Homo sapiens: one gene and its partner. The protein of the gene in region 1 interacts with the protein of each later gene in a biochemical or structural test. Each region holds a gene or a part of one and is shown in the gene's direction. Other genes may lie near its edges.

What was found. The genes of interacting proteins can lie anywhere in the genome.
Region 2: the proteins of FBLIM1 (region 1) and FERMT2 form a complex in vitro, tested with the Homo sapiens proteins (one study listed by BioGRID).

The regions. Positions count from the first base shown.
Region 1 is NC_000001.11:15,756,629-15,760,379, forward strand, and holds the start of FBLIM1 (filamin-binding LIM protein 1), read left to right. Parts: upstream 1-2,166; 5' UTR 2,167-2,220; intron 2,221-3,751. UniProt on the Homo sapiens protein: Serves as an anchoring site for cell-ECM adhesion proteins and filamin-containing actin filaments. Is implicated in cell shape modulation (spreading) and motility.
Region 2 is NC_000014.9:52,867,316-52,871,066, reverse strand, and holds part of FERMT2 (fermitin family homolog 2), read left to right. Parts: intron 1-3,751. UniProt on the Homo sapiens protein: Scaffolding protein that enhances integrin activation mediated by TLN1 and/or TLN2, but activates integrins only weakly by itself. Binds to membranes enriched in phosphoinositides.

The DNA.
Region 1 (3,751 bases):
CCGATCGGTGACATCGACACCCGAGCTGCTGCGGGCCAGGACGAATCCCTCCATCCGGGAGCAGTGGTGGCGGTGGAACAGGTGGCCTGGGGTGCTGGAGGCAGGTAAGCAGAGGCAGTTGAACCCCTCATTCCCCTTGGACTGTCCCAGAGCAAATGTGGGAAGCCTGGGTCCTAGACTAAGTCAGTGTGACCTTGAACAAGGCCCCAAATCAACTCTTCGTTGCCTCACTATCCCACCTGGGGGTGCAACAGGTGGTTCAGGGGCTGTCATGGAGGTGAGGGCAGGCAGCTCCACTTTTATCTCTTAAATAAACTTCTGGGTCACTAAGCATTTGCAAAGGGGTTCTACAGCCAAAAGCGCCTGAAAACCCCCAGATCGCACCTTCCTCCTTTGAGTCCTTCCCGTCTCTGTCGTTCAGAGGGTATGGGGAAGTCTCCTCCAAAGGGTGCTGCAAAGCTGGAGTTTTGGGGGGCAGGGGCAGGATATCACTGCCAAGCCAGGAATGAGCCGAGCAGGGACTCAGACAGCCTTGAGTCCCAGCCTCGCCCTGCTGCACAGAACTCTCAGCACCTCCAAGCCCCAGCTTCCGATTCTGTAAAGGATGGCACTGGTACCTGTTCTTGAGACTAGCAGAGCTGTGTGCCCAGGGACACAGCGGCTCTGGTTTGAATTTGGCTCTGCCATTTGCCCCTAGTGTGGCCTTGAGCCTCTCGGGGCCTCAGTGTCCTTGACCGTGAACAGGAATCATCAGCCCTGGTGCTCATGGCTCTTGTGGGATTAGGATGGGGATGAGGATGGGTACCAGCACCTAGAAAGCCCCTATCAATGGCAGCTCCTGGGACTGCTGCTGTTACTGCAGCTTGGCTGAGAGGATCAAATGGGAAAAGGGGCGACAAGAGGGATGGGAGGGGCGATGATCAGTGGGTGAGGGCGGAGGCAGCCTCCTCTGACCCTCATAAACCAGCCTCCCTCAGAAACAGCCCCAGAGCCACCCTGGAGGGGTGACTGTAGCTGAGGGGTTGCAGGACGGGCCAGATCCTGTCTGGCCACCCCGCAGATGGCGCTGGGTCCAGCGCTCCTCAAGCCTCAGCCACTGTGGCTTTAATCAAAAGAACAATCTGTCTGCCTCTGAATCAGACCCAGATTCCTTTCCCCACAATGTCCCTGAGGCCTCCAGGGACCCAGGCAGTCCATCCCGGCCCCATCCCGGGCCCCAGAGTCCAGGCTCTGCCTCCCCTCCCGCTCCCGTCCTAATTGCTCCAGCTGGGAGGGGGAGGGTCACTGGATGTGGAGGGAGGGGTTCAGCCACAGGGCCAGCCGGGCCCTGCCTTCCAGAGCTCCTGGAGCGGCCTGTCCCCCGGGACACCGGGACCCACCTGCAGAGGGCTTACCGCTCAGGAGAGCAGAACAAGGTGACCTGCTCCACTGGGGGTCTCCGAGACCCCCACCCTCAGGAACACTCCCGGAAAAAGCCCCCAACCCAGCATATATTAACCACTATTAATCACAGTCCTGGCTGTAACTGTCACCTTTTATCCTCAGGCCAACCTGGAGAGGTAGGCAGTGGCTACCTCCACTTTACAGATGAAGACACTGAGGCTCAGGAGGTGGCGTGACTGCTCCGGGTCTCACGCTTAGTAAACGGCCGCAGAACCCTGGTCGGTTTGACGCAAGACCCTGGCGGATCCCAGAGCCAAAGTAAGCGCTCACCTCCGCCGGACAGGGTAGGTGGGGTTGCCAACCCAGGAGAGCGAGGGAAGGGGGACGGCAGGGACCACTCGGGGTCCATGAAGAACGCGAGGGGATGGGCAGCGGGGAGGGAAGGAAACCCACCCCGACTCCCCATTCTCCTACCCCCACTCCCCATCCCTCCCATTCCCCCATCGCCCCCATCCCCATTCCCCCCCATTCCCACCCCCTGGCCTGTGCCAAGGGGGAGGGGAGGCGTCGTCCAGGGAACAAAGGGAGGGGGAAGGGGCGGCGCGGGGCGCGGCCGGGCAGGTTGGGGGGCAGGTAGGGGCCGCTTCCGCGGGGCGGGAATCCCGCGCCCCCTCCCCCCGAGCCTCACCTTTTATGGTAAAGCGGCGCGGGGCGGCGGGGCGGAGGGAGCCGAGGGGGCGGGGAGGGCGGACGGGCGGAGGGGACGGGAGGCCCAGCGGCTCCGGGCTCCGCTGGCTCGGGCGTCGGATCGGAGCCGCCGGGGCGCGGGCGGCCCAGGTAAGCGGGCCGGGTGGGTGGGGGTCGCGTCCCTCCGTCCCTGTCCCCGGTGCACACAGGTGACAGCGCCGGCAGTGCTCGGCCGGAGCCTGCTCGGTCGCCAGCCGGGACCCCCGGCGCGGCGCCCCTGGAGGGGCCTGCGGGTGGGGGGTGCGGTCCTCACGCCCTTTGCGTCCCAGTCTCTTGGTCTCTCTCCCCGGAGTCGGGGAGTCGGCAGGTCCGGGGCGAGGGCTCAGTGAGGCCGGCGGAGGGCCGAGTCCCAGCCCGGGAGCGGGAGCCGGGGACCCGGCGCGCAGGGCGGAAGCTCCCGCACAAAAGGCCGGAGTCCCGCACATGGATCGAATTAAAGCTCCGGCGGCGCCCAGCGGTGACCCCGGCGGCCGCCCTGCTCGGCTGCCTGCGGAGGGTCCCGCGTTTCCGGAGCCCGGGGGCGCTCCAGGCCCCTTTTCCTAGCCAGGGTCAGGCAAGGGGAGGGACGGGTCCCGGGGCTGCTCCTCTCTGGGCCTCACGCGCCCGTCGGGGGCTGAGAAGGTGTGGAGATGGGCGATACCCAGGTGTGTGCCCTGGGATGATCTTGGCGTCGGCCCCTACCCCTCACCTCCCACCCAAGCCTGAGGACCCCGGGGAGAGGCTGGGGCCGCGCCCAGATTCCTGCTCTTAATGACGCTGTAGGTTCTGTCCGGGTCCTGGAGGCACCCCCAGCCGAGCCCAGCCCCCGGGCTGCTTCTCCCTCTCAGCTGCTGCCTAACCAGCTGTCCTTCTCTTTGCACCTTCCAAGGGCCTAGACCCTGAGTCTTCTTTCCTTATATATCCTCTCAGCCGCCCTAGGGACACACTCATTCTCACTTTATGAAAAAACGAGGCCAGAGAGTTTCTGTGACCTATTCGGGGTCACCCCGCAGGAAAGAAGTGGGGCCGCGTGTGAACCCAGCTCTCTACCTCCTCTGTTTCCCTGGGGTGGGAAAGAGGTTGAGGGAACCCCTCCCCTAAGTTGCAGGGTGGGAGGGGTTGGGGCACACCCCGCCACTTCTGCCTAAATTTAATTCCGTACCCAAAGGTAGACTGCTTTATCCGGTCATTAAAGAACAAAGCTGGCCGGGAGCGGTGGCTCACGCCTGTAATCCCAGCACTTTGGGAGGCCGAGGCGGGCGGATTACCTGAAGTCAGGAGTTGGAGACCAGCCTGGCCAACGTGGTGAAACCCCGTCTCTACTAAAAATACAAAAATTAGCCGGGTGTGGTGGCGCGCGCCTGTAATCCCAGCTATTCGGCGGCTGAGGCACGAGAATCGCTTGAACCCAGGAGGCGGAGGTTGCAGTGAGCCGAGATCGCACCACTGCGCAGCCTGGGCCACAGAATGAGACTCTGTCTCAAAATAAATAAATAAATAACAAAGCTTAAGCCGGGTGTAGTGGCTCAAGCCTGTAATCCCAGCACTCTGGGAGGCCGAGGAGGGCGGATCACTTGAGGTCAGGAGTTTGAGACCAGCCTGGTCAACATGGTGAAACCCTGTCTCTACCAAAAATACAAAA
Region 2 (3,751 bases), on another chromosome or scaffold:
TGCGCCACCCTTGGCAAGCCAGTTCTGAGTTACTCCTAGTGGCCCAGCCCATCTCTTCTTTGGGTACATTTGTACGTACACATATTTTTGTAGATAAGGCCTTTCTAACTCGAAGTATTCCGATGTGGACAACAGCACCAGGGAAAAGGGCTCCAGACTGATTTCACAAAAATGACTCCCAAAACAATTTCATTTAACACTTAAAACACAGAGGTGCTTTTCCTGATTCATATTCCTAAATTGTACTTAGTACAGTCATGTATCATTTAACAGTAGGGATACATTATGAGAAATGTGTCACCAGGTGATTTTGTCATTGTGTGAACATTATGGAGTGTGTGTACTTACACAAACCATGATGGTATAGCTGACTGCACACCTAGGCTATATGGTATAGCCGATTGCTCCTAGGTTACAAACCTGTACAGCATTTTACTGTACTGAATACTGTAGACAACTGTAACACAATAGTAAGTATTTGTTATCTAAACATATCTAAATCTAGAAAAGGTACAACTTGGCTGGGCGCGGTGGCTCATGCCTATAATCCCAGCACTTTGGGAGGCTGAGGCGGCGGATCATCTGAGGTCGGAAGTTGGAGACCAGCCTGACCAACATGGAGAAACCCCGTCTCTACTAAAAATACAAAATTAGCTGGGCATGGTGGCATATGCCTGTAATCCCAGCTACTCAGGAGGCTGAGGCAGGAGAATTGCTTGAACCTGGGAGGTGGAGCTTGCGGTGAGCTGAGATCACGCCATTGCACTCCAGCTTGGGCAACAAGAACGAAACTCCGTCTCCAAAAAAAAAAAAAAAAAGTACACTTGTATAGAGCAGTTTCCATGAATGGGGCTTGCAGGACTGGGAGTTGCTCTGGGTGTGAATGGGTGGTGAGTGAATATGAAGGCCTAGGACATTACTATATGCTACTATAGACTTTATTCAATAATTTTCTTTCTTCAAACCTTTGCTTACTGTAACTTTATAACTACTTTTAACATCTTGACCCTTTTCTAATGACACGTAGCTTAAACATTGTACAGCTATACAAAAATATTTTCTTTATATCCTTATTCTATATGTTTTTTTGTATTTAGATTTTTATTTTTTATTTTTAACCTTTTGTTAGCTTAAATCACAGGCACACACATTAGCCTAGGCCTCCACGAGATTGGGATCATCAATATCACTGTCCTTCACCTCTGCATCCTGTCTCACTGGAAGGTCTTCAGGGGGAGTAACAAGCATGGAGCTGTCATTTCCTCTGGTAACAATGCCTTCTTCTGGAATACCCCTGAAGACCTGTCTGAGGCTGTTTTACAGTTAACTTTTTTATTTAAGTAGAAGTACTTTGTAAAATAATGATGAAAAGAATAGTATAGTAAATACATAAACCAGTAACATAGTCATTTATCATTATCAGGTATTATGTACTACTTATAATTGTACATGCTACATCTTTCTATTACTGGCAGCAGAATAGGTTTGTTTACACAGATGTGAGCTATGATACAGCTACAGTGTCACTAGGCAGTATTTTTCAGTTCCATTATAGTCTTATGAGGGCATTGTCGCTGTCGTATATGCAGTTCGTTGTTTACCGAAATGCTGTTATGCAATGCGTGACTGTATATTGTACATTAGGATAGATTTACCGTATTTCAACACAGTGTTGAAATCTGTACCCTAGTACATGAGCTCTGCCTAGTAGTCACTTAAACTATTGCTTTTAAAGTTACACAAATTTTTAAAAAATAGAAAAACTCAGTCCTGGGTAAACAATTGCTATTCCCACATTTTGGAATTCTGTAATTTACCTGAAACTCTTAATTAGGGTCACTACCTTCCTCTCTCAGTCACGGGCGTTTCACTTTTGGGTCTCTGTCATTCTTTGTTGCTCTCAGGATCTGTTGCAACCTTCTCCTGCTTCCCTCTTCAGCTGCCCAGGACCAGCGTAAATGATCCACTGTTGACTTTGAGACTAAATCTGTCTTCTGGCCCCTGTTCTCACTGTCCCTGTTATATCTTAACCTTCTTCCTGTATAACTAAGAGGTCAGGTCCTGGCATGGAATTAATAAGTTTATAAGCTGTTCTCAGTTTTCATCCCACTGCTCCCAAGTCCTCTCAAAGGACTCATCACACTGATCATTGCACTCATCACAGGCACCGCACTGATAACACCTTGACCAAGAATCAAATGGTCTGGATGCTGCTCTTCTACTAAACAAGCCCTATGATTTTTGTTGTTTCGTTTTTTGAGACTATGTTGTACACGCTTATCTCCAACTCTTGGGGTCAAGCGATCCTTCCACCTCTGCCTCCCGAGTAGCTGACACTGCAGGTGCACACCACTACACCTGGTTTAGATCTGTGATTTTGGAAAGATAGCACATCTGGGCCTATAGTATCTTCTTCTGAGAAATGAGAGTGTTAGACTGGATGCCAAGGCTTCATAGAGATCTAAAATGCAAAGTTATTAAAAATTCATTTCAGCTAATACTAAGTGAACTCCTGTGCCACAAACTGTGCTGGGTACTAGAGATACAAGGAAGAACCACTTACAGTCTCAATCCTCAGGATGGTTTAGAGCATGTTGGCGAGATAAAATTACAATTGGGGTAATAAATAGTACTTTGGAAAGGAAAGGAAAAGAGCAAGGGGTAAGGGTGTTCTATAACTTAATCTTCAGTGAGGATGGAGAGACTTCATCGGGGATGGAGAGCCAAGCACAGTGGCACATGCCTGTAATCCCAGCTACTCAGGAGGCTGAGGTGGGAGCATTACTTGAGCCCAGGAGTTCAAGACCAACCTGGGCAACATAGCCAGACCCCATCTCAAAAAAAAAAAAAATGCCTAGAGAGTTTTGTGCTGCTGGAAAATAGAATTTAAGGGGAAGGATGAATACTTCTTAATAGCTATTGAATCTGATTCCTGCTAACATGAGAGGTAGTCGCAGAAGAAACTGGCAGACATTAGATGATAAAAATGGTAAGGAGATTGCTTTTTGAACTGGCAGCAGTGACGTGTCACTGAAAGAACATTAACACAAAAATGACAAGATCCATATTTATACCAGTTATGGTGCAGAGGAGTCATTTTAGAGAGATGATAGTAATCCAAATTAAGGTAATCAACATGGGATGAGAAAAGGGGCAGATTGAATAGATACTGAGGAAGTTTGGTCAATAGTCTGGGTGACTTATTTGGGAGGAGGTTGAAGTGGGGTCATTTTTCTGATTTGTGCAATTGGGTGGATAGTGTGATACTGAGATAAGAATGTAGAAGATGAGAAGAATGTAGAAAAAGGAGCTGGGTTTGGGGGGAAAGATGAGTTTAATTTGGGGATATTTTGAATTTGAGGTGCCTGTGGGATGTCTATTTGGAGCTAGCCTGTAGACATTGGATTAGGGGAGAGATGCACATGCTACAGATACTGATAGGGTAACAGTTAGCAGTAATGGTAAGTGCAGCCATTGCAATGGTTGTCTGTAATGTGAGAAGACAAGATGAAGAATAGAACCCTGCAGATCACCCATGTTTAAGAGACAGGGCAGGTTAGAAGAAGGGGACCTTGCAAAGGAAACAAAAAAAAAATGCATAGGAAGACTATGGCAGTGAAGTATGATGAAAGCTAAGATAAAAGTTGTTTCAAAAGGACAGAGTAGTCAACAATGTCCAGTACTGTAGTAAAGTAAGGTAGTTAGGCCAACATAGTATCTAGCCATGTAGTTCATGACCTTGATAAGAACA